Linked DNA regions of Homo sapiens. The protein of the gene in region 1 purifies or fractionates together with the protein of each later gene. This does not show direct contact. Each region holds a gene or a part of one and is shown on either strand. Other genes may lie near its edges.

Region 1 (3,917 bases):
ACCAAAGCTGAAAATGGACTATCAGAGAACGCTGTCACTCTCTTTCACTCTCTTATTATTTTATTATTTTTTAAGAAACTGCGTCTTGCTATGTTACCCAGGCTGAACTCAAGTTCCTGGGCTCAAGCGATCGTACTGCCTCGGCGTCCCGAGAAGCTGGGGGCACAGGTGGACACACCTTAGTTTTAAAAAAGCATACAATGCGTTTGTGCAAAGTACAAATTTATTTTCAGAATAGGTTGTATTTTATGAATAAACTAGTATGTACACCTTAAAATAATCAGCTTTCATCAGTTAAGGCACTTTTCTATAAAAAAAATTGTCGGTAAGGCTGCTTTATTCACTTTTTGTTTTTTTTTTTTGAGATGGAGTTTGGCTCTTGTTGCCCAGGCTGGAGTGCAATGGCATGATCTAGGCTCACCGCAACCTCCGCCTCCTGGGTTCAAGCGATTCTCCTGCCTCAGCCTCCCGAGTAGCTGGAATTACAGGCATGCGCCACCATGCCCGGCTAATTTTGTACTTTTAGTAGAGACGGGGTTTCTCCATGTTGGTCAGGTTGGTCTCAAACTCCCGACCTCAGGTGATCCGCCCACCTCGGCCTCACAAAGTGCTGGGATTACAGGTGTGAGCCACCGTGCCTGCCCTTTTATTCACTTTTTAAAAAGTGCTTGGCATAAAATTACCTGCAGAGGAAAACTTGATGTCGGCCACTGCTTCAGATGCCCCCAGTCCTTCTTTTAACATAATGTCTTCAGCAACAAGAGGAGGAAATCCTGCCATTCGTTCTTTTCCACCCATTGGAATCTTCCAATGAAATAAAGATATTTACAAGTTCAAATTAAATTTCTTGGAACTCTAACATTAAGCAAATCACTGATAAGATAATTCTGTACAGGGATCAAGAATAAAATCCTTTCAAATATTCAACTGTTGAAAAGAACTTGCAATCACTTCTGGGGTCAAATGAAAAGCAAGGGAACTCTGTGATGGGATGAAGCTTACAAATCTCAGGGCTCTGGGCCACACATTGGGCAAGCACCTGGCAGAAGCCTCTGGACAGGAGAATTGTGCTTCACTGACACTGTTTTTAGAATCCTCCACAGGGCCTCACATAGATTAATGTTGGGCAATTAAGGCACGGTCCTTCTAAGTACCTTAGTTCTTATAGGTGTGGCCATCAGGATTAATGCCTGGTCTTTATGAGTTAAGGGTCCATATATAATGGATAAGATTTAGCTTTTATGTTTACAGGTGTTTCCACGATTAGAAGTAATTGAGTAATTTTTTTTTTTTTGAGATGGAGTTTTGCTCTTGCTGCCCAAGCTGGAGTGTAATGGCACGATATCAGCTCACTGCAACCTCCGCCTCCAAGGCTCAAGTGATTCTCTTGTCTCAGCCTCCCGAGTAACTGGGATTACAGGCGCGCACCACCATACCAGGCCAATTTTTTTGTATTTTTAGTAGAAACAGGGTTTCACCATGTTAGCCAGGCTGGTCTCAAACTCCTGACCTCAAGGTGATCTGCCCACCTCGGCCTCCCAAAGTGCTGGGATTACAGGTGTGAGCCACTGCGCTTGGCTGTAACTGGGTAATTTATTCATCTATTCATTAGCAAATCTCTCCTGTGTTTAGCACTAAGAACACAAAGATAGATTTTGCAGTATGGTTTCTGCCCCCAAGGAAATCAAAGGGGTAGATAATATGTAAGCTAATACAAGGTCAGAAATGTAATGTGAGGCATCTATAAGTACTATGGTTGTGAAGGAAGGAGTAATGAATGTGTTCAGTCAAGGAAAACATTAGTAAAGAAGCTATATATATATAACAAAAACAAGCAATATATGAGCAATATTTTGAGAAATGAGTCAAAGTTATTTGGTGGAAAGATATTTTCGGTCGCCACAGGTACAGATAAAAACTGGAAAAAGGATGATGAGTTCGGGGAACTATAGCTTAATTGTCCAAAGTATGGTGTGTGTGTGTGTGTGTGTGTGTGTGTGTGTGTATTGGTGATGAGGCTGTCAGGAGTTTATACAACTTTTTGCAACAATGTCACTATTGGGCACTCAAAATGTGGCTGGTGACACTAAGCAACCATATTTTAAATTTTCCCTTTTTTTTTTTTTTTTTTAGAGACAGGGTTTCACTCTGTCACCCAGGCTAGAGTGCAGTGGCATAATCATGGCTCACCACAGCCTCATACTCCTGGGCTCAAGTGGTCCTCCTGCCTTAACCTCTCGAGGAGCTGGGATTACAGGTGCATGCCACCATACCTGGCTAACTTGAGCAAATTTTCTTTTTTTTTTTTTTTTTTTTTTGAGATGGAGTCTCTGTTGCCCAGGCTGGAGTGCAGTAGCGCAGTAGCGCGATCTTGGCTCACTGCAACCTCTGCCGCTCTGGTTCAAGTGATTCTCCTGCCTCAGCCTTCTGAGTGGCTGGGATTACAGGCACCCATCACCACGCCTGGCTAATTTTTGTATTTTTAGTAGAGATGGGGTTTCACCATCTTGGCCAGGCTGGTCTTGAACTCCTGACCTTGTGATCCATCTGCCTTGGCCTCCCAAAGTGCTGGGATTATAGGCGTGAGCCACCACACCTGGCCACTGAGCAAATTTTAATTGTCACTAATATATTTAAACTTAGCCACATGTGGGCTAATGGCTACCAAATTGGACAGTGTAGTCTAGAGAAAAAAATAGCTGTGTGGCTATTCTAGGATCAGTCTATATAGAGCAATTTTGCTTTATAGCCAGAATTCTCAAAGAGAATGAGGTGAGGGAAAGCTAGCTCAAGATATTGTATAACAGTTCTGTACAACAAAGGCTTTCTTAACAGAGCTATGGGACCATCCCAGTGTATACTAACCATAACCATGCAATCAAGGCATGTTGCCTTACCTGGAGTAACGTATGACCTGCATGCTTCTGATACAGAGCGTCTGCCCTGTCCAAGGAGGTGATATGCACAGGGAGGATGTTGGAAGCCACGACTGTAAACCAAGCTGACTGATTTCCCTTAAGAAAGGAAGAAGTTATCTGACCTGGTGAAAAACTTGGAAAACCTGCATATTCAAGGTACAATCAACTAAAAAAAAAACAAACCAAAAAACAAAAACCCAATCAGACTCCCTTTATAAGTACTGGTATGGCAGTAGCTGTAAATCAAATTATTACTAAGAACAGGGGCACAATACTGAAGCAGTGCATTTCAGCAATTCATGTGAAACTATGACTTCTTTGACAGACCCAATACTATTTTTGAAAAAAGTCTATTATTAAAAATTAAAAGGAAATACTATCTGCTTTAATTGTCTCTGTGTAAAGTTAGGTTTAAAATATTAACATTTTATGTGTTCTGATGAAATATATAAGGGTGCAAGCCTGGTGTGGTGGCTCATGCCTATAATCCCAGCATTTTGGAAGGCCGAGGTGGGTGAATCCCTTGAGCTCAAGTTTGAGACCAGCCTGGGAAACATGGCAAAACCCTGTCTCTATAAAAAATACAAAAATTAGCTGGGTGTGGTGATGTGTGCCTGTAGTCCCGACTACTTGCGGGGCTGGGGTGGGATGATCATTGGAGCCCAGGAGGTTGAGGCCACAGTGAGCCGTGACTGTACCACTGCACTCCAGTCTGGGCAACAGAGAGAGATGCTGTTTCAAAAAAAAAAAACAAAAAAACAAAAAAACAAAAAACCAACCCCAAAAGCAAAAAACCAACAACCTCCCAAAACGAAATATATAAGGGTTCTAAGTGTGTAAGGCAAAATTTCTAACAAAGTATGAGCAAACACAAAACCCAAGAAATGTGCTATAGTAATGGCACACAGTTGTATTGTGTTGTTGGACATATCCATATCCATGTTTCATTTTCCTTTTTCTCTTCACTTTAGCAAAATGGAGAGCAATTCTATAGACACT
Region 2 (3,917 bases), on another chromosome or scaffold:
TTCAGTAGAGACAGGGTTTCACCATGTTGGTCAGGCTGGTCTCAAACTCCTGAACTCGTGATCCACCTGCCTCGGCCTCCCAAAATGCTGGGATTACGTGCATGAGCCACCATTCCCAGCAAGAGATTTTTTTTTTTTTTAAAGAGAGAAAGACATAAAACACTAGAAAAAAGAGAAGGACAGAAGTGTTAGAAGCTGGAAAACAGATATACAAAGCAATGCTGTTTTAACAGACCAAAGAAAGTTGAATCCTAGGCCAACAGTGGAAAAAAAAAAAGCCAATTTTCTCTATATTACCCTTAAAAGTCTTAGGGATTGGTGACACCTCATAGCTCTGGAAATATGAGTGAAAGTTAGGTCTAAAAATAGAAAGATCCCTTCAAAGTCTTGTTTTCGAAGCAGTTAGGATAGATGTCAGATCCCCTCTCCCATCCGCAGATGACTAGACGACTCCCTACTCAACCCAGCAGAAAACTGCAAACTTGCAGGAAAGAGTAACATAGAGCCTCTTACAGGATGGATGCAAGCCACAGCTGAAAGCAGCGGTACTACTGAAAACGGCTTAAATAAAAGTGTACACAGTACATGTTGAGATCACCAACCCAGGTCCAGAACAACAGCAGGTTATGAAATACTTTCTCTCCAGAATGTGATCAGACCTAAAAATACTAACATCAGGGATTCCCCAACAGAAGAGCCCAGCCAGATCACCCACAGTAAACAAGGCCGAGAAACACCCAAGACCCACAGTAAACCAAACCCATCAGGTACACGGAATTTCCAATGGAACACTGAAAAGTCAGAATCACCAGACACTCGAGAAGAGCCTCCACTGAAAAGATAGGTACCGAACAAACTGGAGAAAGTAACCTGGAGGACATAGACCATGACAGAAAGAAGAGAACCTTTTAAAAAAATCCTTAGGAAGATCTCGTTTATTAAGCCACTACATCCATAAAATAACAAGGTGTTATTAAATAAACAAATAAGAGTCTGAGAACAAAAACAACTTCAAAAGTAAAAATATGACAGGAGAAATGTAAAAATTAAGTAGAAGACCTGAAAACTGAAGTTGAAGAAACCTTCCAGAAGATTCTGCAAAAAAGATGAAAAACTGAAGAGAAAAGGTAAAGTCAGAGACTAGTTTAAAAGGTCCAAAATCTAAATAAAGGCATTAAAAAAGAAAATGGAGGTGAAAAGATAGAATAAAAAATTTAAGAAAATTCCCCTGAACTAAAGGATAAGATGGGACGAGCCCCCAGATAAGAAGGGCCCCTCCAGTTTGTCTGTGATGGATAAAAACAGACACATAGCCAAACTGACTATGAAATGTAGAACAGAGGATAGAAAAGCTTCCTAAGAGAGGCCGGGCGCCGTGGCTCACACCTGTAATCCCAGCACTTTGGGAGGCCGAGGCAGGCGGATCACGAGGTCAGGAGATCGAGACTATCCTGGCTAACATGGTGAAACCCTGTCTCTAATAAAAATACAAAAAAAATTAGCCAGGCGTGGTGGCGGGCACCTGTAGTTCCAGCTACTTGGGAGGCTGAGGCAGGAGAATGGCATGAACCTGGGAGGCAGAGCTTGCAGTGAGCCAAGATCACACCACTGCACTCCAGCCTGGGCAACAGAGTGAGACTCCATCTCAAAAAAAAAACAAAACAAAACAAAACAAAAAAAAACAAGAAAAAGAGAAGAAAAGAAAAGCTTCGGCCAGGCACAGTGGCTCATGCCTGTAATATCAGCACTTTGGGAGGCCGAGGCGGGCAGATCACAAGGTCAGGAGATGGAGACCACCCTGGCTAACAAGGTGAAACCCCGTCTCTACAAAAAATTAGCCGGGCGTGGTGGCAGGCACCTGTAGTCCCAGCTACTCAGGAGGCTGAGGCAGGAGAATGGCATGAACCCAGGAGGCGGAGCTTGCAGTGAGCAGAGATCACACCACTGCACTCCAGCCTGGGAAACAGAGCGAGACTCTGCCTCGAAAAACAAAAAACAACAACAAAAAAAAGGAACACTTCCAAAGAGAAAGAACACGTCTCAGACAAAGGTATGAGGATCAGAATATCACCGCACTTCTCAACAGTAATAATACGATAGTGGAACAAAATTCTAGAAAAATTATTTTCATCCTGCACTTCTGTACCCTCCCAAACTAAAGTTTGAGCAGTGAATCAAAGTTTGCAGACACACAAGGTCTCAAAAATGTAACTCTTATGCACTTTCTCTATTAGAAGATGTGCTTCACTAAAACAAGGGAATAATCCAAGAAAGAAGGGTTTCCAACTCAGGTGCTAAAAAGAATCCCCAGGCCGGGCGCGGTGGCTCACGCTTGCAATCCCAACACTTTGGGAGGCTGAGGCAGGTGGATCACGAGGTCAGGAGATCAACACCATCCTGGCTAACACGGTGAAACCCCGTCTCTACTGAAAATACAAAAAATTAGCCAGGTATGGTGGCACATGCCTGTAGTCCCAGCTACTCGGGAGGCTAAGGCAGGAGAATCACTTGAACCTGGGAGGCAGAGGGAGCAGTGAGCCAAGATCGCGCCACTGCACTCCAGCCTGGGCAACAAAACGAGACTCCGTCTCAAACAAAAAAAAAAAATCCCCAAGATGACAGTAAAAAGAATAGCCCAGGCCACATATGGTGGCTCATGCCTGTAATCCCTGCACTTTGGGAGGCCGAGGTGGGTGGATCATGTGAGGTATGGAGTTCGAGACCAGCCTGGCCAACATGATGAAACCCCATCTCTACTAAAAATACAAAACTTAGCCAGGCATAGTGGTGGGCGCCTGTAATCCCAGCTACTCAGGAGGCTGAGGCAGGAAAATCACTTGAGCCCAAGGGTGGAGGTTGCAGTGAACTGAGATTGTGCCAGTACACTCCAGCCTGGGCAACAACAGCAAAACTCCATCTCAAAAAAAAAAATAGCCCAGGCTGACCGTGATGCTTCAGGTGCAGGGGGTAACCTGTTCAGATCAAGCCGGTCAGAAGGCTCCACAAGGGACTTTTCTCAAGTAGATAAAAGCGATCATAGCACTTGATGCGTTTAAATATACTAAGAAAAAACTTACATAACTGGGATTTATTTTCAAAATAATCTGGTCATAGTTATATACACTATGCAAACAAAAAAGATAATTAGTAACTCCAAGGAAAGCAAAAACTTGTGCAGGAAAAGTAATCACAGTACCCGCCATGGTTCAGTTGTGAAGCATATTTACACAGTCACAATGGATATGAACACATCTGCCCAAAATCACACTTCTGAATGGAAAGCTAGGGATGGGGACAAAAACGAGCTTGAATGTGGCAGGGAAACAGGGATAAGAGAAAACTAAATCCTTATCTTCCACAGAGAGAAGCCCGGAAATAATGGAGAAAACTAACAGAAAAAGAAAAAAAATGCAAGTGTTACAATTATATAAGCATGTTGCTTAAAGACAGGGAGATGAAAAACCAAAAGAATTAGTTAAAATGTTTCAAGATGACTGCCTTAGGGGAACAGGAAATGGGACAGGGGGGTTGGGGGATTGCTTTTTCCAAAACAAACTTTATTGCAACTTGACATTTAATGAGCATGTGGAATTCTGATAAAAATAAAAAACTTAAAAAATCATAGCCAGAAAAGTTCATCCTCATTTATACACACATACTGGAGAGTCCCTACTGACTAACAAGAAGCTAAGCTGTTAGCTATAAGCCCCTTTCCTTTATCTAAGTTCTCATTGCAACTGCTGTTATATACAAGGTAAAAATAACCAGAAGAGTAAATATGGAAAATGACTCCATAAAAAGATGATGTGGCTGGGCCCAGTGGCTCAACGCCTGTAATCCCAGCACTTTGGGAGGCCAAGGCAGGCGGATCATGAGGTCAGGAGTTCCAGACCAACCTGGCCAATATGGTGAAACCC

The links.
Region 2: the proteins of NOA1 (region 1) and ATE1 purify together in Homo sapiens (co-immunoprecipitation; 2 studies listed by BioGRID and IntAct, with this or other methods). This does not show direct contact.

The regions. Positions count from the first base shown.
Region 1 is NC_000004.12:56,963,723-56,967,639, forward strand, and holds part of NOA1 (nitric oxide-associated protein 1), read right to left. Parts: intron 3,015-3,917; coding exon 2,898-3,014; intron 805-2,897; coding exon 684-804; intron 1-683. UniProt on the Homo sapiens protein: Involved in regulation of mitochondrial protein translation and respiration. Plays a role in mitochondria-mediated cell death. May act as a scaffolding protein or stabilizer of respiratory chain supercomplexes. Binds GTP.
Region 2 is NC_000010.11:121,914,244-121,918,160, forward strand, and holds part of ATE1 (arginyl-tRNA--protein transferase 1), read right to left. Parts: intron 1-3,917. UniProt on the Homo sapiens protein: Involved in the post-translational conjugation of arginine to the N-terminal aspartate or glutamate of a protein. This arginylation is required for degradation of the protein via the ubiquitin pathway. Does not arginylate cysteine residues.